Linked DNA regions of Homo sapiens: all the other regions are linked to region 2. Evidence: fine-mapped QTL for protein levels in blood plasma. A gene starts in region 2. Each other region holds a variant in brackets. All regions are shown on one strand. Distances are from middle to middle. Region 1 overlaps IL31RA (interleukin 31 receptor A). Region 2 holds the start of IL31RA (interleukin 31 receptor A). Region 3 overlaps IL31RA (interleukin 31 receptor A).

What was found. PIP is the chance, under the fine-mapping model, that this variant and not a neighbour inherited with it causes the effect. The UK Biobank Pharma Proteomics Project read protein levels with antibody pairs (Olink). The fine-mapping took linkage between variants from a reference panel, not from the people measured, so its PIPs are less certain.
Region 1: its variant is fine-mapped to the plasma level of the IL31RA protein (UK Biobank, PIP above 0.99). The variant lies in the coding sequence of IL31RA. If it changes the protein, the assay may bind it differently, which can mimic a change of level.
Region 3: its variant is fine-mapped to the plasma level of the IL31RA protein (UK Biobank, PIP above 0.99). The variant lies in the coding sequence of IL31RA. If it changes the protein, the assay may bind it differently, which can mimic a change of level.

The regions. Positions count from the first base shown.
Region 1 is chr5:55,879,960-55,887,959 of GRCh38, reverse strand. It overlaps IL31RA (interleukin 31 receptor A), which reads right to left. Exons shown (of 15, transcript NM_139017.7): 5 at 4,765-4,916. Among named protein-coding and RNA genes, the nearest start is that of IL31RA, 33 kb to the right of the region's middle. The variant C/T (reference allele first, on the strand shown) is at 4,812.
Region 2 is chr5:55,844,798-55,855,085 of GRCh38, reverse strand. It overlaps IL31RA (interleukin 31 receptor A), which reads right to left and starts at 3,729. Exons shown (of 15, transcript NM_139017.7): 1 at 3,453-3,729. The coding sequence starts at 3,515.
Region 3 is chr5:55,908,637-55,916,636 of GRCh38, reverse strand. IL31RA (interleukin 31 receptor A) reads right to left here. Exons shown (of 15, transcript NM_139017.7): 12 at 5,965-6,105; 13 at 3,067-3,160; 14 at 1,709-1,790. Among named protein-coding and RNA genes, the nearest start is that of IL31RA, 61 kb to the right of the region's middle. RefSeq lists an enhancer at 4,620-5,819. The variant G/A (reference allele first, on the strand shown) is at 1,763.

The sequences.
Region 1 (8,000 bases), 34 kb before region 2:
TCCTGCCTCAGCCTCCCCAGTAGCTGGGGCTACAGGTCCGCACCACCACGCCGGGCTAATTTTTTCTTTTTTTTTTTGAGACAGAGTCTTGCTCTGTCACCCAGGCTGGAGTACGGTGGCGATCTCGGCTCACTGCAAGCTCCACCTCCTGGGTTCATGCCATTCTCCTGCCTCAGCCTCCCGAGTAGCTGGGACTACAGGTGCCTGCCAACACGCCCGGCTAATTTTTTGTATTTTTAGAGGGACGGGGTTTCACCGTGTTGGCCAGGATGGTCTCGATCTCCTAACCTTGTGATCCACCCGCCTCAGCCTCCCAAAGTGCTGAGATTACAGGCGTGAGCCACCGTGCCCGGCCATTCCCGGCTAATTTTTTTGTATTTTTCGTAGAGACAGGGTTTCACTATGTTGGCCAGGCTGGTCCCTAACTCCTGATCTCAGGTGATCCACCCACCTCGGCCTCCCAAAGTGCTGGGATTACAGGCGTGAGCCACTGCACCCAGTCCATAAATCAAATTCTTAAAATACTTTTGAGATCCCTTTCTAAGAGGCTCACATGGCTTTATTATACAAAGGTGCAAACCCTTTAGACTAGGGCCACAAAAGAATCTGGAGGGTGTTGAGGTAAGGTCACATGGATGGCAAACCTGGGAGACAGAAAACCTGAGCTTAGGTTTGCAACTGACAAGCCCTGTGATCTTGAATAGATGATTTAAGCTTTCAACATCTTGATTTCCTAATCTGCAAAAATGGGGATAGCAAGGCCTCAATTACAGGATATTTGCAAGGATTAAATAATTTGGAGTATAAGGAAGCTCTTTGTTACTCATAATATCATACAAATATGGGTCTTGTTAAACGGACATGTTGGAATTTTAGCATTAGTTTTACATGGCTACATTTAAACAAATATTTATTGAGCACAGGCATGCACCAGGCAAAGGGAAAACAGATGAAAACTAAGGTCCCTGCATTTGAAGAATTTACAGTGTAACTGGAAGAGAAAGTTGAAATGCATTGCTGTTAAGTGCAATGACAGAAGCATGCAGAGGAGGGACCAGGCCCAGGCCCTCAGAAGGAAATATGTCAGGCCTGAGTTCTGAAAGGTGGAGATTGGGGCAGGAGAGGTGCAAAAGCAGAGGGTGTTCTAGGAAAGGCACAGAAAGAGTGAGAGAACATGATGCAAGGGAAACAAGCAATTCAGAATGACCAGAGAGGCAAGAGCAAGAGCGTGAAGGGATCGGTAGATGCCAGGTCTCACAGAGTTAATAATTTGGACCCTTTTCCATCAACAATGGAAATCTTTGATAGAAGGTTGGGAAGAGCAGAGTTGGGTTTAGCTGGGATTGCAACTGAGGATAACTGCTTGTATTTGAAAGCTAAGGAGAAGGCCAGGCATGGTGGCTTATGCCCATAATCCCAACACTTTGGGAGGCTGAGGCAGGTGGATCACCTGAGGTCAGGGGTTCGAGACCAGCCTGACCAACATGTGAAACCCCATCTCTACTAAAAATACAAAAAATTAGCCAGGTGTGGTGGCACAAGCCTGTAATCGCAGCTACTTGGGAGGCTGAGGCAGGAGAATCACTTGAACCCCGGAGGTGGAGGTTGCAGTGAGCCAAGATCATGCCATTCACTCCAGCCTGGGCAACAAGAGTGAAACTCCACCTCAAAAAAAAAAAAAAAAAAAAAAAGCAAGCAAGCAAGCAAGCAAGCTAGCTAAGGAGAGAGAAAGAGTAGTACAGACTTCCACCTTCCTTCCTGCATCCTCCAGGAAAACAGGAGGCAGGACATTTTACCTCTGGGACTGGCAGGAAGCAAAGATGAGTACAGATGTGGGTGAGTTTGTTAAAGATACGGGGTACAGGATGCCAAGGGTTGGGTAGTTTATACCCGTTGCCCTCACTTAGTGTTATATGCGGTATAGTAATTTTCCAGAGGGACTCTGGTCCTGGTTTATTTTTCTTGTTGAATCCTATCCCCCAGCAGCTGTAGTAACTCTGCACTCAGCCAAATAGAAGGAATTAAGGGTTTATAGCCAGTAGACTATCCCAGAAGTTTCTCAGGTTCACGGAGACCATGACATGTGGTATGAAGAGGAGCTTGTGCTATACCGGGGACTGCTCTGCTTAGGGGTTCCCCAAACTACAATTAATGAATCTAATGTTCCATGTAGGCAGGTTCAAAGAGAATGGTTCCAGAGCTGGCTTAGAAAGGAAGCTGGGGGGAGAAGTGGCCATTATCATCTCTCTGAACACAGTGATAGAGGCAGAAGGCAGATAAGGGGGGTTCCCAGAGAATCTCTGACCCGCCCAAGTGTTTACATCAGATGCTTTTGTGTAGATGAGGAAACCTGCCCAGGGTCTTGTCCGCGCATGTCGACAACAGACTGGGGACCCGCCTGTGCACTGGGAGAATGGGGTGGAGCCACGGGAAGTTCACGCTTTGTGCAGGGGGAAGGAGCCTGGCCTCTTTAGCTCCTGTGTGGTGGCCTGGTATTCAGTCTGTGAGGTGGTAGCCTGTTAGCAGGAGCCCATCTCGCTTTGCTGAGAATTTTTTTCTCTTTTTTCCTTTTCGCCCAATAAATTCCTCTCTCCTCACCCTTCAATGTGTCCACGTGCCTAATTTTTCCTGTTGACACAAGAACCCGGATTTAGCTGAACTAAGGAGCAAAAATTCTGCAACAATAGGACAAATAATGCTTTTCTGAAAGAGTTCCAGACAAGGAGAGCATGCTGCAGTAAACAGGGTGTCTATGGGTTTCCACAAGGGAAAGGGTCGCATGATAGCCTCCTGGACAAGATAAAAAAAAGTAGGCTGAATGATGATAGTGGTAATTAGGTATATTCATAGAAACCTGAATAAATGACCATATCCAAAGGAGGGGTTGATCCTCTGGATGGTTTCTACTGGTTTACCACAGGGCTCTGATGTAGTCACCATTTTTATTAATAATTAGATAAAGGTATAGAAGGAAGTGTTATCAAATCTGGGGATACTGAAAAGTTAAAAAGTAAAAAGTTAATCATAAGTTTTGGGTGACCAAACAGGATTCTAAATAGGCTGGAATGATAGATAAGACCAACATGAAGACATTCAATAAGAATAAATAAAACACCTGAACTTAGGTTAAAAACCAACAAATGATAAGATAGTAGAGGTATGTTTTACTGGCAAGTCTTCAGGAGGTAAAAAGTCTTAAAGATTTAATTGGCTAATAGTTGATTAAAAGTCAATAATGTGTCTGCTCATGATGGCTCACACCTGTAATCTCAGAACTTTGGGAGGCTGAGAGAGGAGGATCACTTAAGACCAGGAGTTCCAGACCAACCTGGGCAACACTACAAAAAAAATTTAAAAATCAGCCAGGCATGGTGGCATATGCCTGTAGTCCTAGCTGCTCGAGAGGCTGAGGCAGGAGGATCGTTTGAGCCCAAGAGTTCAAGGCTGCAATGAGCTGCAATCACACCACTGCACTCCAGCCTGGGTAACAGAGTGAGACCCTGTCTAAAATTTATAAAAAGGCAATAAATATGAGATGATTACAAAAAGGTGATACAATTTCAGGCTGCATTGATGGAAACTGCAGAATATTTTCTTGACTTTGAGGTAAGAAAACATTTCCTAAGACACAAAAGGCATTAAGCATAAAGGTAAAGACTGATAAAACTCTAACCATATTAAAATTAAGTGACTATTCCTCAAAAGTCACCATTAAGAGAGTGAAACGTCATGCCACATAGTGAAAGATGTTTGCAATACACGTAACAAATAAAAGACTCATAAATAGAATATGTAAGGAATGCCTACAAATCAATTGAAAAATCAGGCAGACCAGCCAATAGAAAAAACATGCAAAAGGCTTAAATCAGCGCTTCCAGAAGAAGGAATCCAAAGGGCCAATAAACATGTGAAAAGGTGTGTAACTTCATTAAAGGTCAGGTAAATGCAAATTAAAGCCACCATTCCATCATGTTCATACTATGAGATACTACACAGCAATGAAAATGTATAAACTACAGCATTATATAGCATGAATAAGTCTTAAAAGCACAATATTGAGAGATAGAAGCCAAACATTAGAAAATACAAAATATATGGATTCCCTTTATATGCTCCTCCTCTATTTCTACTGGGCGCTTCTTCATCCTGGGACTCAAGGAAACAGGGCATAGTCTCTTAAACTATGTTCTTCAGTGATGCAGCCTTAAATGGTAAAAAATGAAAGCAAAGAAGATTACCATGAAAATCAGGGTAACAGCTCTAACAGAGGTCATGAGCAAAGGGTAAGCAGGGGGCTCTGGCATCCTGGAGAAGTTCTATTCTTGGCCGCAGTGGTTTCTACATGAGCACTGACTTAATAATAATTTGTTAAATGTAATATTACGTTTTGTTCACCTTTCCAAATGTATGTTATACCTCATGATTTTATAAAAGGTCAGAAAAATAAAAAATAAAATGGCCAAACCATAGACTCTCTGGTAGCCAACATAGCCAGACACAAACTTGGATATAATGCAGAAGTAAATTTCTCACTCTTTATTATGTCCCTGTGCTCAGAAGGCAAAAATGCCTATTGTAGAACACCCTTCCAATCTAAAAGGTCCAGATGGAAAAATGGAAAACTGGAAGGAGAAGTACTTAGCAATGTCTCTCTTCTATTTTTAATGTAAAAAGTGAAATAATGATTCCAGGTCAACAATAGTTGTCAATGATTCTTTTCCTCTGGGCCTCTAATTGGAATATTATTATAATGGCATAACTTACCCAGCTGGTACTGTTGACTGTCCTGAATCGAAGTGTGTATTTTAAAT[C/T]AGATGAAACAGGCGCCAACTCAGGCTTTATCCATTCAATTTGAATCATTCGTTTGATGCCCAAAACTGGTTTCACACGGAAAATCTTAGGTGGTTCAGTTTTCGCTGAAAATAAAAATCATACAACTCTCATATCTGCAAAAAGATAAGAATTTGCTAATAGCATCCACCCAAAATTGAAAAAAAATGATACGTGCATTGTGGTCTGCTATATGGAACGAAGATGGCATTTGCAAGGCAGTACAAAAGGAATGTCACCCCCCCAACCCCAACACCTCTGAAAAAGGAATACCCAGTGAGAGAAGGATGCATTCCTGTGATTTTTCAGCAAATCAGCCTCTTATTGATTGGTCATATGCTATGCCAAGCAGAAGGGAGGTAAAAAGAGACCACACAACCAGAAAATAGGCTGTCTCTCTTATTTACTCTCACCTCCCCTAGGCCTCTCCTTCCTTGACCCCTAGGATGATGGAATACCCACTATAAACACTAGAAAATAACTCTCATTTTCCTTGCACACTGCAAACATTTTAGCCTTAAATTTCTCTCTTTGAAAATATGCATTTTTCTAGTTATAAATGTAGCATATGCTTATTATACAACATTTTTTAAGTGTAGAAAAATACAAAGAAAAACTAAAAATCATCCATTATCCCATCAACCAGAGATAACCCTTATTACCATTTTGTTATATTTCCTTTCAGCCGTTTTCCGTATAATTATTTGCATTATCTTCTAACAAAATTGGTATTACGCTAAATAAAGCTTTTGTTTTTTAAAAATAACATTATGCAATCAGCATATATCCCTTTGTATTAATAATTCTTCAAAACATGATTTTTAAGGTTCATAATATTCTACTTTATGAATGAACATAATTTTTTGACTTATGTTCTATTATCGCACATTCATGGTATTACAGTAGGTAGCTAATCAGGCATGAGAAGGACAGGAGAGGGCTCCCCCTACACCCCACCAGGAAAGTCAGGTGACCATCAGGTGATGCTCAGACCATTGTCACGCTGCCTTGCAAACCTAATAATTGGCTGTAGCCAGCACCAGGGAAAGGCAGTTTCCCAATATATAAAAACACCTGTAACTGGTGATTGGCAGCTCCCCAGTAAGATCTCAGGAATTGGGCTGGACGCAGTGGCTCACATCTGTAATCCCAGCACTTTGGGAGGCTGAGGCAGGCAGATCAGGAGGTCAGGGGTTCAAGACCAGCCTGGCCAACATAGTGAAACCCCATCTCTACTAAAAATACAAAAATTAGCCGGGCATGGTGGCGGGCGCCAATAATCCCAGCTACTCAGGAGGCAGGAAAATCACTTGAACCCAGTAGGCAGAGGTGGCAGATTGCACCACCACACTCCAGCCTGGGCGACACAGTGAGACTCTGTCTCAAAAAAAAAAAAAAAAAAAAAAAAAAAAATCTCAGGAACTGGGCGAGTGGGCTCAAGCATGGCCATTAAGAGGCAAAATGGCAGAGTTTAACTGGTATATGAGCTTCTGGGGGCATTCCAATGGAAAAGGGAAGAACGCCTCAGTTGAGCATGCGTACGACTCCAGTAAATACACTGCGCATGCTCACCTCCTAAGTTCTAGCAGGCCGCCGTGCAAGTGGGCAGCTCACCGTAAGGGAAGAATCAAGGGAAATGGGACGCAAGGTGCCGGAAGTAGGCCGGCGTAGAAAACCCAAGGCGCAGAAAAGTCCAAGGTCAAACGGGGCACTTGACCTCCAGGATGCCCACTTGGCCCTCTTCCAAGTGTTCTTTACCTTCTTCCTTCTTTCCATTCCTGCTCTAAAGCTTTTTTTTCTTTTTCTTTATCTTTTTCTTTTTTTTTTTGAGATGGAGCCTTGCTCTGTCACCCACGCTGGAGTGCAGTGGCGCGATCTCGGCTCACTGCAAGCTCCGCCTTCCGGGTTCACGCCATTCTCCTGCCTCAGCCCCCCTAGTAGCTGGGACTACAGGCATCTGCCACCACGCCCAGCTAATTTTTTGTATTTTTAGTAGAGACAAGGTTTCACCATGTTAGCCAAGACGGTCTCAAGCTCCTGACCTCGTGATCCGCCCGCCTCAGGCTCCCAAAGTGCTGAGATTACAGGCATGAGCCACCGCGCCCGGCCTCTAAAGCTTTTTAATAAACTTCCACTCCTGCTCTAAAACGTGCCTCAGTTTCTTCTTCTGTCGTATGCCCCTCAGTTGAATTCTTTCTTCCGAGGAGGCAAGAACTGAGGTTGCTGCAGACCCATACGGATTTGCTGCTGGTAACTCAGATAACTTCCACCGCTAACAATAGTGTTTCTAATTTTTCATTTAAAACTCCTTGAGGACAAAGGCTGGTCTTGATCACAGAGTCTAGAATTAACACCTGACATTTAGCAGGTATCAAATATTTGTTAAGTGAATGAGTAAATGGATGATGGTTGAATTTTCCTTTACATCTCTGGTGGTTTCCCTAGACCCCTTAGCAGAGGCTGACTGGGTAAAAGGGCATGACCATGTTTAGGGCTGCTGTCACACAGTGCCATTTAGCTTTCCAGAAAGGTTATACCAATTTCAGTTTCCATCAACATTGTATGAATACCCATCTCACCAGACTCTTGCTAGCTAGAATTGAATAGTATTATCTTTTTAGTCTTTGTAATTCTTTTTTTAATTTTTAAAATTTTTAATTTTTTGAGTACATAGTTGGTGTGTATATTTATGGGACATATGAGCTGTTTTGATACAGGCATGCAATGTAAAATAATCACATCATGGAGAATGGGGTCTTTGTAATTCTTGAAGAGTTTTAGAAAGCAAAATCCCTACTTAGAGACATGGACTTTAAAACATTAACTGGGTAAAAATATTCAGAAAACTCTTGGTAGCTACTCAAAAAATAATTTGTACTGATGCCTGGACTAAAGGGTGGTCATCAATCCGTGTGGCCACTAGTAAGTAGAGCTGTATACAATAGACATATTAAGTATTTCCATAAAATTATTTATATGTATTGAGCACTTGATAAGTATTTTTTTAGGTGAATCATTTTGTTGAATCCTCTCAACCACCTAACATTTATTATATCCATTCTACAGAAGATAAAACTGGTATTGGAAAAGGGAAAATAACTTTCTAATAAGAAGCCAATCTAAGACTCATTTGTATCCACACCAAAGTTTCTGCCCTTGTTCATTACACT
Region 2 (10,288 bases):
AGACTCATAACACTGAGAGGGAGGTAGTCAAGCGATGCACTGCTCAGCCTCTCTCAGTGCCTCAGAATTCCTCAAGACCCACAGGACTTGGTTTATACTTTCACTGATCAAGTAGAAGGGTGCCCTGTTCTCAGTCTCTTTTAAATGTTTATTTGGAGCTTGCAGTAATGATAATAGTCGCAGTAATAATGGCCTTAGATTTACAAGCACTTTCATGTATACTATCTCCTTAGATTCTTGTCACCCTTCAGGTAAATGAGACAGATATTTTTATATTTTCTATTTATATATTTTATATTTATAGTTGCATATTTTATATTTTATTTCTTTTTTTTTTTCTGGAGACGGGGTCTCACTCTGTGACCCAGACTGGAGTGCAGTGGTGCAGTCTCGGTTCACTGCAACCTCTGCCTCGCGGGTTCAAGTGATTCTCCTGCCTCAGCCTCCCAAGTAGCTGGGACTACAGGTGCCTGCCAACAGGCCCAGGTAATTTTTGTATTTTTAGTAGAGACAGAGTTTCGCCATGTTGGCCAGGCTGGTCTCAAACTTCTGACCTCAGGTGATCCACCTGCCTCGACCTCCCAAAGTGGTGGGATTACAGGTGTGAGCCACTTTGCCCGGCCTGCATATTTTAAATTTTATTTCTATATTATGTTTTAGGTTAAATCAAATGAAATTGCTATTTTTATTAAGTCAAAAACAGTTAAATCTTGGCAATTTCAGCCTAATAAAATAATGACATCCTTACTTTTTGGATGAGGATATTGATTATATATACATTGCCCAAGATGAGATTGCGAGCTGTCAGATGACTACCTCCAGTTTCAAAGTCTATAAATCCATTTGGGTTGTGGGCTGCCTTCATTTAAAGAACATTCTGAGACAGCCAGTAGTGAGACTGGCAAAAGCACTATCATGTTGGAACAGTGACAGCCTGCAAAGTGCTAACTACACTATACAAATTACATCCTGTACTTCTAAAAATCCGTGTAGGGTTTGTATTACTCATCTCTAGTTTACGGATATGGAATCTGAGGCCAAGAGATATCATGTAAATTGTCCAAAAATAATAGTTTGTAAGCAGCATAAATGAGATTCAAACTCACGACTGTCTTATTCCAAACCTGGACTCTTTCCACTAAAATCATGTGGTAGCTATTAGTGATTTACTCTCTCTCAGCTCTCCTGCCATGAAATACCAGTACACACAAGGATTTTCCTCTGAATCCTCTAGGTCTAATTTTCTCTAGCCTAGAGTTTCCTGAAAGATAAATCCATTATTTCAGATATTTTCCCCAATCCTTCACCTCTAACACTCATGATTCTCCATTCTGATCTCAGCATTTTAAAATATTGCCTGCCAAAAGATTAGATTCCCTTAACTATCAACAACCAGTTCAAGGAGAAATTCACGTGGTGGGTCTGACCCATAATTTCACTGAAGAAAACAGAAAAAGACTTTTATAAAGTAGAAAAAGATGATCAAACTATCACTCTTCTAAATGAATTAGCACTCACCTTCATGTATCAGGGGATGTTCCACAGATGTTCTGCTGGCTCAAAGGATTTGCATCAAAGGCAACTCCACCTCCCACAGCACAAGTCAGGACAGGAAGAACAATCTGGACTTTAATTTATCCACACTAAGATGTGGGAGTGTTTCCACTCTGATTGTCTGCGAGCTTTTCTTGTGCTTTTAAGCCCAGCCCAAGTCAAAGTGGCACTTACCCACTTATGCTGGGAAATGGATTGCATTATTGTTAACTAAAAACAAAAGCAAAAACAAAAACACTCAACTCTACAAAAAAAAAGGATCATCTGAAAGACCAGAAACAACTAAAAGAAGTGACTAACTTTTAAATTTTCTCTTCAGGAAGTCCTTACAAATGTGGTAATAGCTGAAACAGTGAGAGTATCTTTAGCTTGAAATGAGAAATACGCAATCATGTTAACTGTCTTTAGACAATGAAGGAGATGAAGGAAAGAAAATAATGGTAGCTGACTCCAAAAAGAGGCTTACAAATTCTTATTTACGTCTAAAGGAAAACATACTGAACTGAGAAACCAGAGCTTCAGTTTAGCCACTAGTAATAATCATCATTAATAATTTGTGGAGCTCTTACTGTGTGTCAGGCATAGTACTAAGAACTTCACATTAATTATCTCTTTTAATCTTCACAACAATCCTATAACATCAGGAGTATTTTTATTCCCACTTTATAGGCAAGGAAACTGAGGTCAAAACAGTAAGCAACATGTCCTACATGGGTGGTGGAGCCAAGACTTGAACCAAGGCAGCCTGACTCTCAGTTTCCTAGCAATCAAAGGTTCAAATTAGATTATTTCTAGGATCCCTTCTAGTACCACAATTTTGCAACCGTTTGTAATGGACTGACAAAACCACGAGAAATAAATAGACCGGGGAAGAGATTATGATGCAAAAGGAAAGAAAACTAAGTTTTAAAACAAGCTATGCTTTCCAGCCCCACATTTTAATTTTTAACCCATTCCCCATCTTCCTTAGGCAATGTTCCACTAAGTAGGAGGAATAAGGGTGAGAAAGAGAGCTAGTCTTTTACCTAGAAGATTATAATTATGAGATATTTAAAATTCCAGCCAGGCGTGGTGGCTCACGCCTGTAATCCCAGCACTTTGGGAGGCTGAGGCAGGTGGATCACCTGATGTCAGGAGTTTGAGACCAGCCTGACCAACATGGCAAAACCCCATCTCTACTAAAAATACAAAAAAATTAGTCAGGCATGGTGGCAGGCACCTGTAATCCCAGCTACTCGGGAGGCTGAGGCAGGAGAATCGCTTGAACCCGGGAGGCAGAGGTTGCAGTGAGCCAAGATCGTGCCATTGTACTCCAACCTGGCGACAAGAGTGAAACTCTGTCTCAAAAAATAAATAAAATAAAATAAAATAAAATTCCATTATAATATACTATAGAGAAAAGCTAAATGCTAGCACAAAAATAGCAAGCATTTCTTGAATTTATTCAACCAATACTTAGTAAACACCTATTACATGCATAACAGCTCACTAAAGGTGTTGTGTATTAAATAGAATTCTGGTTAAGACAAGACCAATTGAGCATATACATTTATCTCTACTCTCTCAGGAAACTCCACAAAAATTATGGCAAAGATATAGAACCACAAGACAAAACAAATGGGAAGAGGCAACAGCAAATAAGAGATGTCAACAAATCTTTGGAAAAAGAGAAATGAATCAAGCCATAACTGAACTGGTAAAGATGAGAAAGCAGAAACCTAGAAATGCCTAATAAGGTTGCCAACAATAAGCAAACATAATTATGCCACGGAATCTCATACGGCTCAGGATTTGAGACACTAGGTAGGTAAAATCAACCCTCATTACTCACAGCTTCCTTATTTGTGAATTCACCTACTTGCTAGGAATTATTTGTAACCCCCCAAATCAATACTCACAATGTTTTGCGGACATTCACAGACACATGCCGTGGTGAAAAACTTGAGTTGCCTGATGCACATTCCCAGCTGAGGTGGAACAAGCTGACACTCTGCCTTCCTGTCTCAATTTTCATACTGCACACACATGTCTTTTCATGGTCTATTTAGTGCCATGCTGGTTATTACTATTTTTTTTTGCAATTTTTTGCCTTTTATGAGTGATTTTGCTGTTTCGAATGCCCCCCAAGCAGAGTGCTGGAGTGCTGTCTGGTGTTCCTAAGCAGAAGGAGGCTGTGCCTCATGGAGAAAATATGTGTGTTAAATAAGCTCTATTCAGGCATGAGTCATAGTACTGTTATTAGCCATGAGTTCAATGTTGATGAATCAACAATGTATATTAAATAAGGTGTCTTTAAACAGAAACACACACAAAACAAGGTTATGTATTGATTAGCTGACAAAAATGTTGTGACCAGAGGCTCACAGGCACCTAACTCTATATTTCCCCCACAGAGAATAATTCAGTATTTTCTTTTTTTCTTTTTTTTTTTCTTCTGAGACAGAGTTTCGCTCTTGTTGCTTAGGCTGGAGTGCAATTGCGCCATCTCAGCTCACCGCAACCTCCACCTCCCGGGTTGAAGTGATTCTCCTGCCTCAGGCCAGCCTCCCATGTAGCTGGGATTACAGGCATGCGCCACCAAGCCCAGCTGATTTTGTATTTTTAGTAGAGACGGGGTTTCTCCATGTTGTTCAGGCTGGTCTCAAACTCCTGACCTCAGGTGATCCACCTGCCTCGGCCTCCCAAAGTGCTGGGATTACAGGCATGAGCCACCACGCTCAGCAGTATTTTCTAATTCAGTGTTTGTGGCGATTTTATTGAACATAATTGCCAGGAATAATGAAGGAATAATGAGAATTGACTATACCTCTGAAACAAAAATCATAAGATTGGTTGAAAATCTGAAAAAGAAATAGACTACCTAATCCTAACCCCACAAAGCCAAATTCATTAAATTTCTCCCATCCCAACAGCAGATGGGGGGAAAAAACTTGAAAGAAAGGCAATGCAGAAAGCAGAATATTTTTTAAAAGAAATATTAGTTAAACCTTCATAGAAAATAAGAAAAAATGTTGTACCCACAAAATATGAATAGGATGCTATGATAAAGGCATAATTAGAGAACAAGAACTCTTGGAGATTCAAAATATGAGAGCTGAAGTCTAAAGACTAGAAAATAAAGTTGAGGAAATCTTCCAGAAGATAGAAGAAAAGACAAAGAGATGAAGAATAGCCAACATCTGACTACCAGCAGTACAGAAGCACAGAACAGAGGAATGGAGGGAAAGAAATAATGAGAGAAGTGATACAATAAAATTCCCAAGAATTGAGGAACATTTGTTTCCAGATTGAAAGGGCCCACTGTAAACAGCATAATAAATGAAAATAAATCTACACTGAAGTACAAAACAGTGAAGTTTCAGAATATCAAGAATAAACAGAAAAAAAATGTTTCCAGATAGGAAAAAAATAAGTCACATACAAAGGATCAAGGATGAGAATGGCTTTAGACTTAATAACAAAACCAGAAGTTAGAAAGCAATGGATCAATTCCTTTATAACTCTATTGGAAAATTATTTCTCACCTAGGATGCTCTACCCATCCAAATGATCCATCAGAAAGAAAGGTAAAACAACGTTCTTGAAACTGCATTTTCCAACATGCCAAGTTTCAAGAACTTTATCTCCCATGTGACCATTTTCGAGATGTTATTGAAAAAAGTGACTACAAAAACAAGAGCATAAGCCAAAACAAAAAGGAAAAATGGGCTCCCAAAAACAGCAAATTTCAAATAGAAGAGAGAGAATTCCAAGAATGGTGGCCAAGGGAGATCCCAAGATGATAAGAGTACAACAGGCTTGGAGAGCAACTAGCCCAAGTGAGTGGCAGACGCCAGGCTCAAGGAGGGATATTTCCAATGAAAAAATACATGGAGGGGACCCAATGGATCTGACAGATGTTGAAACTTGAAAAGTTTTGCAGCACTCTTAGAAAGTTTGGAGAAGGATGAGTAATCGGCTCAGTAAGTTAAGGAAACCAAAAAATGGCATAATTATTAATTCCAGGAAAAAGAAAATGTTATATAAGAAAATATATTTAAAGTCCAATATGTGGCTCAGCTATGAATAACTATAGAGTCACAACAATGAAAACATTAATGGATTTAACAAAAGTTATAACTATATTGAAAGAATGGGGTTAGGAAAGGATGCACATATGTGTGTGTTTGTGTATAGAATTGGTAAGAGACTTCAGTCTTTATCTTCCATAGTTAGTAAGAAGTCAATAGATAATGTCTAAAATTGAAAAAAAAATTAAATTGCAGTATAAACATGTTCTTTATAGATATGGAAATAAACCCCAGAAAAAAAAAAAGCTAAAAGAAATGAAAGTGATTTTTTCTGTGAAGAAAGTTTGGCAATGGGAAGGGATATAGCACTGTATTGCTGTTATTCGTGGTAAGTCTTAGAGTGCCACTTGAATGTTTAAACTATGTATATGTATTACTTTGATAAAATGTAAAATTATATTTTAAAAGTGAATTAATAGGTGAATTAACAAGTGCTCTCCCCATGAAGGGAAATAGATGTCATTCTCAGTCTGACACCTCAACCATTTCCTCCTAGGAGGAGCAATGTGATTTGTTGGGTGGTTAGAGAGTCTAGATGAGAGGTCTTTTGTTTACTTGTTTCATTTTTTTCTTTCTTTATTCCTTGTTTGTTTTGAAAATAAGAAAGTCATAGAAAGAGAGTTCTAAGATAGATAAATGGATTGACGGATGGATAGTGTTTCCCATTTGAAGTGGGCTTTGAGTTGCAGCCCCTGAGGCAGCCCCCCCATCTCACACCTTGTTAGTGGAAAACATAGTAAAAGCATTTTAGATGCCTTTAATCCGGGAATTCCACTTTTAGATATTTATCTAAAAGAAATAATCATGGAGTTTTCCAGAGATATAACATCAAGGATGGTCATCATGGCAATGCTTATAAAAACCAAAACAGATAAATTGTAATTTGTTTTAAAACCCAGAGCTTTTTGGAGAAAAGGTTGATTTCAGGACTTGGGCAACGAAAATACAAAATGTGCCTGGAGTATCTTGTAGTACCAGATAGTAAGGAAATGTTGAAAAAGCAAAAGGATAGAGCATGTCAAAGGGACACAGGAACCAATCTGAAAGAACTTCCAGCCAAAGCCAGAACAATTTGAGCAAAAAAGTGAATAATGTATACTGGATTATAATTCAAAGTATAAAATAAATATACATTACTTCATATTAATATTAATAAATGATTGCATAAATAAATGTGGAAGAAGAGACTAATTTTCCTTATAGAAAAATTCTAAGTGATCTGTAGATACTGCTATCTTTAAGAAGTGAATGAAGTTTAATTCCCTCTCTTCTCCCACCTTCAGGGTATGCTAGACTTGATGACTCACTTCCAAAGAACAGAGTTGGGAAAGACAAAAAGCGTATTTTACAGTGGAGAAACCTGGCAAACACTACCTTAACCAATTAATGAAAGTTAGCATCACCAGTGATGTTATATAGATATAACCAATCCCTGATATAATGTGACAAGAAAGGTATTTCATCTTTGTGGTTTCTTTCCAAAAACCCACAAGCCCAGTCTAGTAATGAGGAAAACATCAGAAAAACCCAAGTTTGAGGACATTTTACAGAATATCTAGTCAACACTCTTCAAAACCATCAGGGTCATGAAAACCAAGGAAAGACTGAGAAACTGTCACAGACCAGAGGAGATTGGAAAGATATGATGACTCAATGTAATATGGTAGCTTGCATTGGATCCTGGAACAGAAAAAGGACATTAATGGAAAAACTGGTGAAATCCAAATAGAAGCCTAGAGTTTGGCTAATAGTAATGTACCATTCATGATCTGGTTTTTAGTTTTGACAAATGTACCATAATAATATAAAATGTTGCCAATGGGGAAAACAGTAAGGGGTATTCAGGAACTCTGCATTATCTTTGCAACTTTTTTTGGCGGGGGACAGAGTCTTGCTGTGTCACCCAGGCTGGAGTGTAGTGGTGCGATCTTGGCTCACTGCAACTTCCGCCTCCTGGGTTCAAGTGATTCTCCTGTCTCAGCCTCCAGAATAGCTGGGATTACAGGAGTGCACCACCACGCCCACCTAATTTTTGTATTTTTAGTAGAGACAGGGTTTCACCATGGTGGCCAGGCTGGTCTTCAAGTAATCCATCGGCCTTGGCTTCCCAAAGTGCTGGGATTACAGGTGTGAGCCACTGCGCCCAGCCCTATCTTTGCAACTTTTCTTTTCTTTTTATTTATTTATTTATTTATTTATTTATTTATTTATTTATTTTTATTTTTTTTTTTTTTTCTGTTGCCCAGGCTGGAGTGCAGTGGCATGATCTCGGCTCACCACAACCTCCACCTCCCGGGTTCAAGTGATTCTCCTGCCTCAGCCTCTCAAGTAGCTGGGACTACAGGTGCACACCACCATGCCCAGCTAATTTTTGTATTTTTAGTAGAGATGGGATTTCACTATGTTGGCCAGGCTGGTCTCAAACTCCTGACCTCATGATCCACCTGCCTCAGCCTCCCAAAGTGCTGGGATTACAGGTGTGAGCCACCATGTCTGGCTAACAACTTTTCTATAAATCTAAATTTATTCCAAAATAAAAAGTTTATTTTTAAATTCCAGAAAGTATAATAGGGCACCTGCTTGAGCACACAGGTTTACCCAGAGTACTGGTATTAGTGTTCAAAATCAGAGAATATTTTGTAACATCATAAAATATAGATTCTTTTTTCCAAGATGGAGTCTTGCTCTGTCACCCAGGCTGGAGTGCAGTGGCATGATCTTGGCTCACTGAACTTTGCCCGGGTTCAAGCGAGTCTCCTGTTTCAGCCTCCCAAGTAGCTGAGATTACAGGCGCACGACACCAAGCTTGGCTAATTTTTGTATTTTTAGTAGAGACGGAGTTTCACCATGTTGGCCAGGCTGGTCTCGAACTCCTGACCTCGTGATCCGCCCACCTCAGAATTTTAAAGCTAGAAGGAGACTTAGAAATGAGTCTGCACCCTTCACTTTTATAGATGAGAAAACTCAGTCTCTGATTTGCCCAAGGTAACATCATTAGCAGCAGAGCCAAGATTAGAATTTATCCAGGTCTTAACATTCCCAGTTAAAATGTACAGAAATATTATGGGGTCAATTCCTATTTTGGAAAGGCAGAGAACCAAACAATACGCATCAGAATATAAAAGTTAAGAAATCATTATGCCTTCAATATTTACAGCTGGGACTTCCAGGTTCTGGTTCCCCATGTAAGGAGCTTAAATGGCATAAATCTGTCCTAACAACAAGTAAAAAGCTAAACAAACTGAAAATCAACAATTCTTCTTAGATCCATCAGAGAAGTGAGGTCACAGGACAAACCACTGTCCCCAAAATTGGAGAGACAGACAGGTGGATATACAGAGAATCACAGCTCCCCAGAACACAAACTCATTTCCACAGGAACCAGTACCAGGGTAGGAAAACCTGAATTATCATTGTTAAATCACTCAAGGCTCAGTGTGGACAAGTATAAGAGTCAAAAACTCCAGGGAGCCCGAGTCATAAAGAGGCCCTCATACTTTGTGAGTTTTACCTACAGGAGCTCGTATAAGAACCACCAAATTCTCATAGCAAAGATTAGAGAAAAATAGCAGGTAGCAGAGGGACAGAGGGGAGTAACCATTTTGAAATATACTAGAGCATTTCGTTCTTCTTAACAAGGCCTGCTGTATTAGTCCGTTCTCACACTGCTATGAAGAAACACCCGAGACTGGGTAATTTATAATGGAAAGAGGTTTCCTTTATAAATTCCACATGGCTCAGGGAGGTCTCAGGAAACTTACAATCATGGCGGAAGGAAAAGGAGAAGTAGGCACCTTCTTCACAGGGCAACAGGATGGAATGGGTGCAAGTAGGAGAAATGCCAGACACTTAAAAAACCGTGAGATCCCATGTGACTCACTCATTATCATGAGAACAGCGTGGGGGAAATAGCCCCCATGTTCCAATTACCTCCATCTGGTCCTGCCCTTGACGTGGGGATTACAAGGATTACAATTCAAGACGAGATTTTGGGTGGGGACACAGCCAAACCATATCACCTGCCCTCAAGAGCCTAACCTAATGGGAAAGAAAATACCCCACTACAGCCCTCTCTTGCCATCCTGTACCACCTAAGTGAAATCCACCTGTACCACAATTAACACAATTTGTGAAGTTCACAGTCCAGAGGCACAGGCTCACTAAAAGACTGAGACCTAATCATAGGGCTGTCAAACACTTCCTCTCCCTTCACATCTTGTCATGACCTCACTAAAGGTCTGTTTACCCCAGTTCCTTTTACCTGGTACATCATGTTCACCTTTCAACAAAATGTTATAAGGCATACTAAAAGGCAAAAAACACAGTTTAAAGAGACAAAGCAAGCATCACAACCAGACCCTGATATGGTATGGATGTTAAAATTATCAGACTATAAATATAAAATAACTATGATTAATATGCTAAGGGTGAGTGGAAAAAGTAGACAATTTGCAAGAACAGATGGATATCTTAAGCACAGAATGGAAATTCTAAGGAAGCATAAAAAAGAGATGCTAGAGGTTAAAAACACTAACAAAAATGAAGAATGCCTTTATTGGGGTCACAGGTAGACTGGACATAGCTGAAGAAATAATTTCTGAGCTTGAGGATTTGACAATGGAAACTTGCAAAGTGGAAAAGCAAAGAGAAAAAAACTAAAAATA
Region 3 (8,000 bases), 63 kb before region 2:
AGAAAAAGGGACATCCCAAGTGGTCATTTAGGAGTCACATATGACATAGCCAAAAACTCGTTAGGCTTGGGACAGCAAATGCCCATCTCTGGAACAGCCCCCACCTTCCTCCCAGGCCCAGAAGTGGTAGCCAACCCTCTCTGCATGCCCTTCCACAGAGCTTGGAAGGAGTGGCACATTTCCTGAGAAACAGTGCCCTGGATTCAAACAATTTTTAAAATTTATTTATTTATATGTATATAATTTTTTTTTTTTTGAGACAGGGTCTCACTCCCGTTGCCCAGGCTGGAGTACAGTAGCATGATCACCACTCACTGCAGCCTCAACTTCTCAGCCTCAGGTAATTCTTCCCCCTCAGCTTCCTGAGTAGCAGGGGCTACAGATGCACACCACCATACCTGGCTACTTTTTAATTTTTTGTAGAGATGGGGTTTTGTCATGTTACCCAGGCTGGTCTTAAACTCCTGAGCTCAAGCAATCCCCCCTGCCTTGGCCTCCCAAAATGCTGGGATTATAGGCATGAGCCGCTGTACCCAGCCAATTCAAACAATTTCTTCTGCTAGAGTGTGCAAGGCTATTTTCCACACAATCCCATGTTCACAAAACCCCAGTTAAGATGGAAGAACTAAAATTAGAACTCTTAGGGATGGAAAAACCACATCATAGAGACAGACTTGTTCAACCTCACCAGAAAATCAGAAGTGGCCTCATGGCAGGGACAGTGACTTTGTCATTTGTATCCCTAGGGCCTAGCCCAGCACCTGGCATGTAGTGAGTGATTAATAAGTGCCGGCTCTAGAGGTCCAACCTACGGATTATTCAAAAAGCATGTTAGTTATCAGAGAGCACTGCCTATGAATCCATTTACTCTCTAAATGACATTTAATAAGCAGGAAAGTAAATGGGGGTATAAATCAGTCCAGTATACCGGACTGATAAGAGGAGGAAACAGAAAGAAAGCCCATTATAACAAAAGGCCCATGCTCAAAAAAGACTTCTGAGTGGGAACGAGGACTAATATTTAAAATTTGTGCATCAAGGAAAAACTGGAAACAGCCTTTCAGTAACAAGGATTTAAAGGTTATATTTGATTGGGCTTGTTTCTACGTAAGCAAGAAATTAAACCTTAAAATTTCCCTAACGGTTTTCCACTTAAAAATTTATGCAAATGGAGGGTTTCTAGTTAAGGAATACTCACTAGAAAACCCCAATGCCAGTTAAATAAAGCCTGACTCTGACGTCCCCAGCCTGAGAAAAACAACCTGAGGCAGCCTCAGACTGCCATGCCCATCAACATTCCCTGGTGATATTTAGACAGTCTTTAGATTAATGTGCTCTTGGCTGCTTTGTAAATGGCTTCAAATCCTATAGCCAAGGCTCCTCTCTCTCTAATTAGCCCATCAGGTCAGGAAGGGTAGGGCCAGTGTCTTTATTCTGCAGCATCCTTTATGGGACCAGTTCCACCTGGGAACGCACTGGGTCCTCATGAGCCTGGTGAAGCCCTTTCCCCTTGTCAAAGCATGAAGTCAAAGTCATTCCAGGAAGGCTGAGTCCATCTGCCCTGCCTGCCATTCCCTGAGACTTTTCAACTCCAGTTCTCTTGATGTGAACCTTGAAAAAAGCTCAGCCTAGGACTCTTTCCCCATCTCCATTCACCTCGTCTACCTCCCACGGCAATGATTTCCTTAATAAAAACAGGAGAGTTTACCTTGAAATCATCTCCATGCCATGTGGCTATACTACTTTCAGCAGGGTTGGGAAC[G/A]GTGGGCCAACACAGATGAGTCAATTTGCTAATGAGAGAGAAGATTTTAAGATGGGAATTGAATCCAAGAAGCATTAGCACCATATGGCTGAGTCAAAAGAGTGAGGCTGTGCTAAAGGGAATTGTAAGTTTCCCTCCTAAATAAGGGCATGTCTGCCTAATAGAACCTGGGAAAGTGGAGTTGTTTTGCGGTGTGTGTTGGGGGGTGACATTGCAAGTTCTCTGTGGGATGTGATCAAAGGAGACTCTCCCCATACAAAGCCTATCTTCCCCTCTCTCCCATCCCAGCATCTCCATACCTGGTCCCAATGCTGTAAATTGCACCATCACAGAGTCATTCCTTTGAGGCTTATCCTCTGGGAAAGACAACATTTTATAAACCTTATAAGCTACCCATACTTTCCTGCAATGGTTCTCCAAGTGTGGTCCCAACCAGCAGCATTGGGATCACCTGGGAACTTGTTAGAAATGAACATTTTGGGGCTTTACCCTAGAACCACTGAATCAGAAACTTTGGGGGTGAGGCCTGATTCTGATGCATGCTAAGATCAAAATGATTACTTAAGTGCATAATGTACAAGAATCTATGCTGGTGGCTTGGTTATTACCTACAGTTGGTAACGGAGGTTGATATTAGCTTGACCATTAACTAAGTGCAGCTGCTTGACAGAGATGACTCACAACTGTCTAATTTGGAGAGACAGCTCAACCAGGGGAGGACCATTAGGGTGCCATAAGGCTCACTGCAGAGAGAAAGTCTAAGACCCTGAAGACATGCTTTCTTCCCCACAGTGGCCAGGGCAAGCAGGTTAAAGGCCCCTGCAGCCAGACCCTCAACACTGCACCACAAGCAAGCAATAAGCTTGCACCCACAGACGACTGGCCAGCACTCCAACACCGTGGAGACACTGCTCCCCGCTCTGCCTGAGACAGAGCTCGCAAGAAGGCCTCTTGCTGCAGCCAGGGGCCCTGCTAGACACTGAGAGAAAGGGTCTGCTCTCCAACTCCAGTCTCAGATGGCAAATGGAGCAGACAGAGCCTGTGGGGCAGCTGGCACTCTCCTGGCCTCAAAAAGGCCTAGACCTGGGCATGGAGCTCTGGGAAACGAAAGTGCTCTTGCTTGGTCAGAATTCCGGTGAGCCACTGAGCGTGGCCTTTAATAACCTCAATAAATACGCACCAAGTTAATAAATGAATGAACACCCCTTAATGGTAGAGTGCCCTCTCCTACGAAGCACCTATGATGACTTCAACCCCTTTTTGTCCCTGATTTTTAAGGCACCCACTGTTGTCTGCAGACTCACTTGGGTTTTTTGAGACCATATGCCACTGTCAGGATAATGAGAATAAGAAGGCCTCCACCAATCAGAGAAGTTATGAGGATAATCTCAAAGACACCTTTGAAAAACAAAGAACAAAAGTCAGTAGTGAGTTCCTCACCTTCTTGACAAAAATCAATGATTAACTTTTTCTTCTAGTAGCTTCAGCAACACAATGTCTTATTAGTTTTCTTTCAGTTAAATTCAATTTCTTTCCACTAAAAAAACCCCAGGTCAGGAGTTTGAGACCTGCCTGGCCAACATAGTGAAACCCCGTCTCTACTAAAGATACAAAAAATTAGCCGGGTGTGATAGTGTGCACCTATAATCCCAGCTACTCAGGAGGCTGAGGCAGAAGAATCGCTTGAACCTGGGAGGCGGAGGTTGCAGTGAGCGCTGATCATGCTGTTGCACTCCAGCCTAGGCGACAGGGCTAAACTTCATCTCAAAAACAAAAACAAAAACAAAAACAAAAAACAGAATTTTGTGCCTCCCCATCTAGGTGTCTTCCTGGCAGCATTCATTCCAACAGCATTCATTCAGTGAATACTTATTGAGCACTTACTTTTTAATTTTTATAAATTTTTTTTGAGATGGGTCTTGCTCTGTCGCCCAGGCTGGAGTGCACTGGCATGATCATAGCTCACTGTAGCCTCGAACTCCTGGGCTCAAGCAACCTCCTGCCTCAGCCTCCCAAGTACCTAGGACTTACAGGTGCAAGCCATCATGCCCAGCTAATTTTTAGACTTTTTTTCTTTTTGAGATGGAGTCTCGCTCTGTTGCCCAGGCTGGAGTGCAGTGGTGCATCTTGGCTCACTGCAACCTCCGCCTCCTGGGTTCAAGTGATTCTCCTGCCCCAGCCACCCTGGTAGCTGGGATTACAGGCACGTGCCACCAAGCCCGGCTAATTTTTGTATTTTAGGCAGAGACTGGGTTTCACCATGTTGGCCAGGCTGGTCTTGAACTCCTGGCCTTGAGTGATCCTCCTGCCTTGGCCTCCCAAAGTGCTGGAGTTACAGGCATGAGCCACTGCGTCCAGACAGCAACTTTAGCTAAGGTGTCCAAGGAAGGAGTGAAATTCAAGCTGATCTTAATAGTGAGAAGGATCCAGCCATGCAAAACCATGGAGAAAAGCATTCCAGGCAGAAGAAACAGTGGATGCAAAAGCTTTGAAGCAGCAACAAGGTAAGGAAGATAAATAGAGGCAGAAAGCAGTAGGAAAAATGTGGTCAGTAAGGGACAGATGATGAAAGACCTTGAAAGTTATAGGAAGGAGTTTGGATTTTCTTTAAAATATAATAAAAGTCACTGTGGCTTTTAAGCAGAGAATTCAGGGTTTGAAACTCTGGCTGCTGTGTGGAAAATGGATTATAGAGGATCAAAAATGGAAGCAGGGTGATTTATAATCTATAGACCAGGGTAGGAAACTTCTAGGTTCCAGGGCTGGATCTTGCCTTCATTTAACCCTTGGAGAAAACTCCTTGAGCTGATGAAATTTGTGCCCAGTGTTGCAAAAATTCAATACAGCTTTAAAAAAATTTAAACAGCATATCAAAAAGAGTTCCTAGAGGGCAATGTTAGTCCATCAAAACAGAATATGTTTTCTCTGTAAAAAAAACATGTCATACTCACATTTTCCAGAGTGATAAAGCATTTTATTCTTGAAAAATGTGATGCATAAGAGGCTTTCAAGAATATTTCAAGCAATTTTTAGCTTGCCTCAGTTATTGCAAAAACTTGGCAGTGTTCCTTCATTTTTAATCTAAAAAGCGTTGTTCATTCTTTAAGACAGTTTTAGTACGTACTTAAAAATCAAATCTCTGTCACTCAAGGACTTAGCAAAATTAATATATATCTGTTTCTCCCATTCTCCTTCCTTCTTTCTGCTTCATCCCCCTCCTCATTCCATCTGCCTGCCTCTAAATATCTCCCTTAACCAGCCATCATATGAAGCTACATTTTATTTTACATTATTTGTTGTCTCTAGTAAATTTTTCTTGCTATTTTTTAATGTAAAAGTGGGTAAGTTAAATATATCATATGTCTTTTTGCTCAAAAAAAACCTCCACAAATGATGAGGTTAAGCCCCTTCCTATGGGTCAGTAGTCCTGAGTTAACCAAGGTTTTCCCTTGAAGGCCCTGTTGTACAGTGATATGGTTTGGCTGTGTCCCCACCCAAATCACATCTTGAATTGTAGCTCCCATAATTCCTACATGTTGTGGGAGGGACCCAGGGGGAGATAATTGAATCATGGGGGCAATTTCCCCCATACTGTTCTCATAGTAGTGAATAAATCTCATGAGATCTGATGGTTTTATAGGGGGAAATCACTTTCACTTGGTCCTCATTCTCTCTTGACTGCCACCATGTAAGATGTGCATTTCACCTTCCACCATGACTGTGAGGCTTCCCCAGCCACGTGGAACTGTGAGTCCATTAAACCTCTTTTTCTTTATAAATTACCCAGTCCCGGGTATGTCTTTATCAGCAGCGTGAAAACAGACTAATACATACCGTAACCTATAACATGCAGAAACTGGTGACTATGAACGGGGAGACAGCCTTGAGATGGGAGCTGGTTTGGTGCTAAGACTGAAGTTGGCATTAATTTGACACCTCCTCCTCCAGATGATTTGTGGCTGCCCATGAGGAACGACCAAAATGACCAGCATTTCCAAATTCGGCTCTCAACTTGCCTGCTCTTCCCTCCCATCTCCTCACCTATATGCTTTCCAGGAAGGTTGGTGAACAGAGAGCAGGATGGCAGGGCACTAGGCACTGCCCTTTCATTTGGCTTCCTCCAGCTTTTGGCAGATGTCATTTCTCTCTGATGTAAGGTAAACGTGAGGGAGAGGTACCTAAGGCTTGAAGGAAATACTCACTGAATGACAATGTCTTGAAATTTATGCTGGTCCCGTTGGTTCCCCCAGCACTGGTGCTGGCCATGACCTGAACAATGTAAGAGGTCTTTCGTTTCAGGGACTCCAGGCCGTACTGCAAGATGCTGGAATTGACTGTCTTGGCTAAAGGAAAAATACAAAGGTCAAACACCACAGCCAAACCAGACTGAAAATTGTGTCCCAGTAGCACCAAAATAAGAGCATTGGAACCTGTGCTTCCAAGCTCAGCTGTCTCATATTCTGACCCCTATTCATGTCCTGCTTAAATATCAAGATGGATTAAGGACCTCAATATAAGAACTAGAACTATAAAAATTCTTAGAAGACAGCATAGGATAAATCTTCACAACCTTGAATTTCACAATGGTTTCTTTGATATGACACTAAAAACACAAACATCAAAAGAAAAAAATAGATCAAGCTGGACTTCACTAAAATTCAAAGTTTTTGTGCATCAAAAGATAATATCAAGAATGAAAAGATAATCCAAAGAATGGGAGAAAATATTTACAAATCATATATCTGATAAATAACTTATATCCAGAATATATAAAGAACTCTTATAAATTCAATAACGAAAAGATAACCCAATTTAAACATAAGAAAAAAGATGAAAAATACACTTCTCCAAAGAAGATATACAAACGGGCTGGCCGGGCGCAGTGGCTCATGCCTGTCATCCCAGCACTTTGGGAAGCTGGGGCAGGCAGATCACCCGAGGTCGGGAGTTCGAGACCAGCCTGACCAACATGGAGAAACTCCATCTCTACTAAAAATACAAAATTAGCTGGACGTGGTGGTGCACACCTGCAATCCCAGCTACTTGGGAGGCTGAGGCAGGAGAATCGCTTGAACCTGGGAGGTGGAGGTTGCAGCGAGCCAAGATCGTGCCATTGCACTCCAGTCTGGGCAACAACAGCAAAACTCCGTCTCAAAAAAAAAAAAAAGATATACAAATGGGCAAAAACTACATGAAAAGATGCCCAACATTATTAGTCAGTAGGGAAATGCAAGTCAATGAGATAACCACTACATACCTACCAGGACAGCCATAATAATTTTTTTTAATGAAAAATAACACGTATTGACAAGGATGCAGGGAAATGAAAACTCTCATACATTGCTAGTAAAAAATGTATAGTGTGGAGTAGTCACTGTGGAAAACTGTTTGGTGGCTCCTCAATAAGTTAAACTAGAGTTACAGTATGATCCAGCAATTCAACTTCTAGGTATATGCCCCAAAGAACGAAAAACACAAACTCAAACACATATTTGTACACAGCAGCATATGTTCGTAGCAGACATCTGTTCATAGCAGCCCTATTCACAATAGCCTAAAGGTTGAAACACCCTAAATGTTCATCAACTGATGAATGGATAAACAAAATATGGAATATCCACACAATGGAATATTATTCAGCCATAAAAATGAATAAGTACAAAATCATGCTATAACATGGGTGAACTTTGAAAACATGCTACATGAAAGAAGCCAGACACAAAGACCACATATTTTATGATTCTATGTATATGAAATATCCAAAATAGGCAATCCATAGAGACACAAAGCAGTTTGGTAGTTGCCAGGGGCTGTGGGAGGAGAGGAATGGGGAGTGACTAATGAATGGGTATAGGGCTTCTATTTGGGCAGAAATAGAAGAGTTCTGGAAATAGTGGTGATGGTTGCACAATATTGTGAATGCTTCTAATGCCACTAAATTGTACACTTTCAAATGTTTAAACTGGAAAAATATTTTACGTGTATTTTACCATAAGAAAAAATTATTTAGCCTAAGCAAGAATCCAAGCCTTGCCCAGTATTTAAGATGTCAGGAGATAAGGTGGACTGAAAAACAAAAGCATGATTTGGCAGGGGCAGTAGAAGTCATGGTGACAGGGTCTGTTCCTCCTCACTCTTTAAGCCAGGCACGCCATTCCTGGGAATGATGGTCGGGGAGCTCCCGGGAGGTCAATTCAGGGCCTAACCAGGACAAATTATAACAACTCCTTCCATTTCC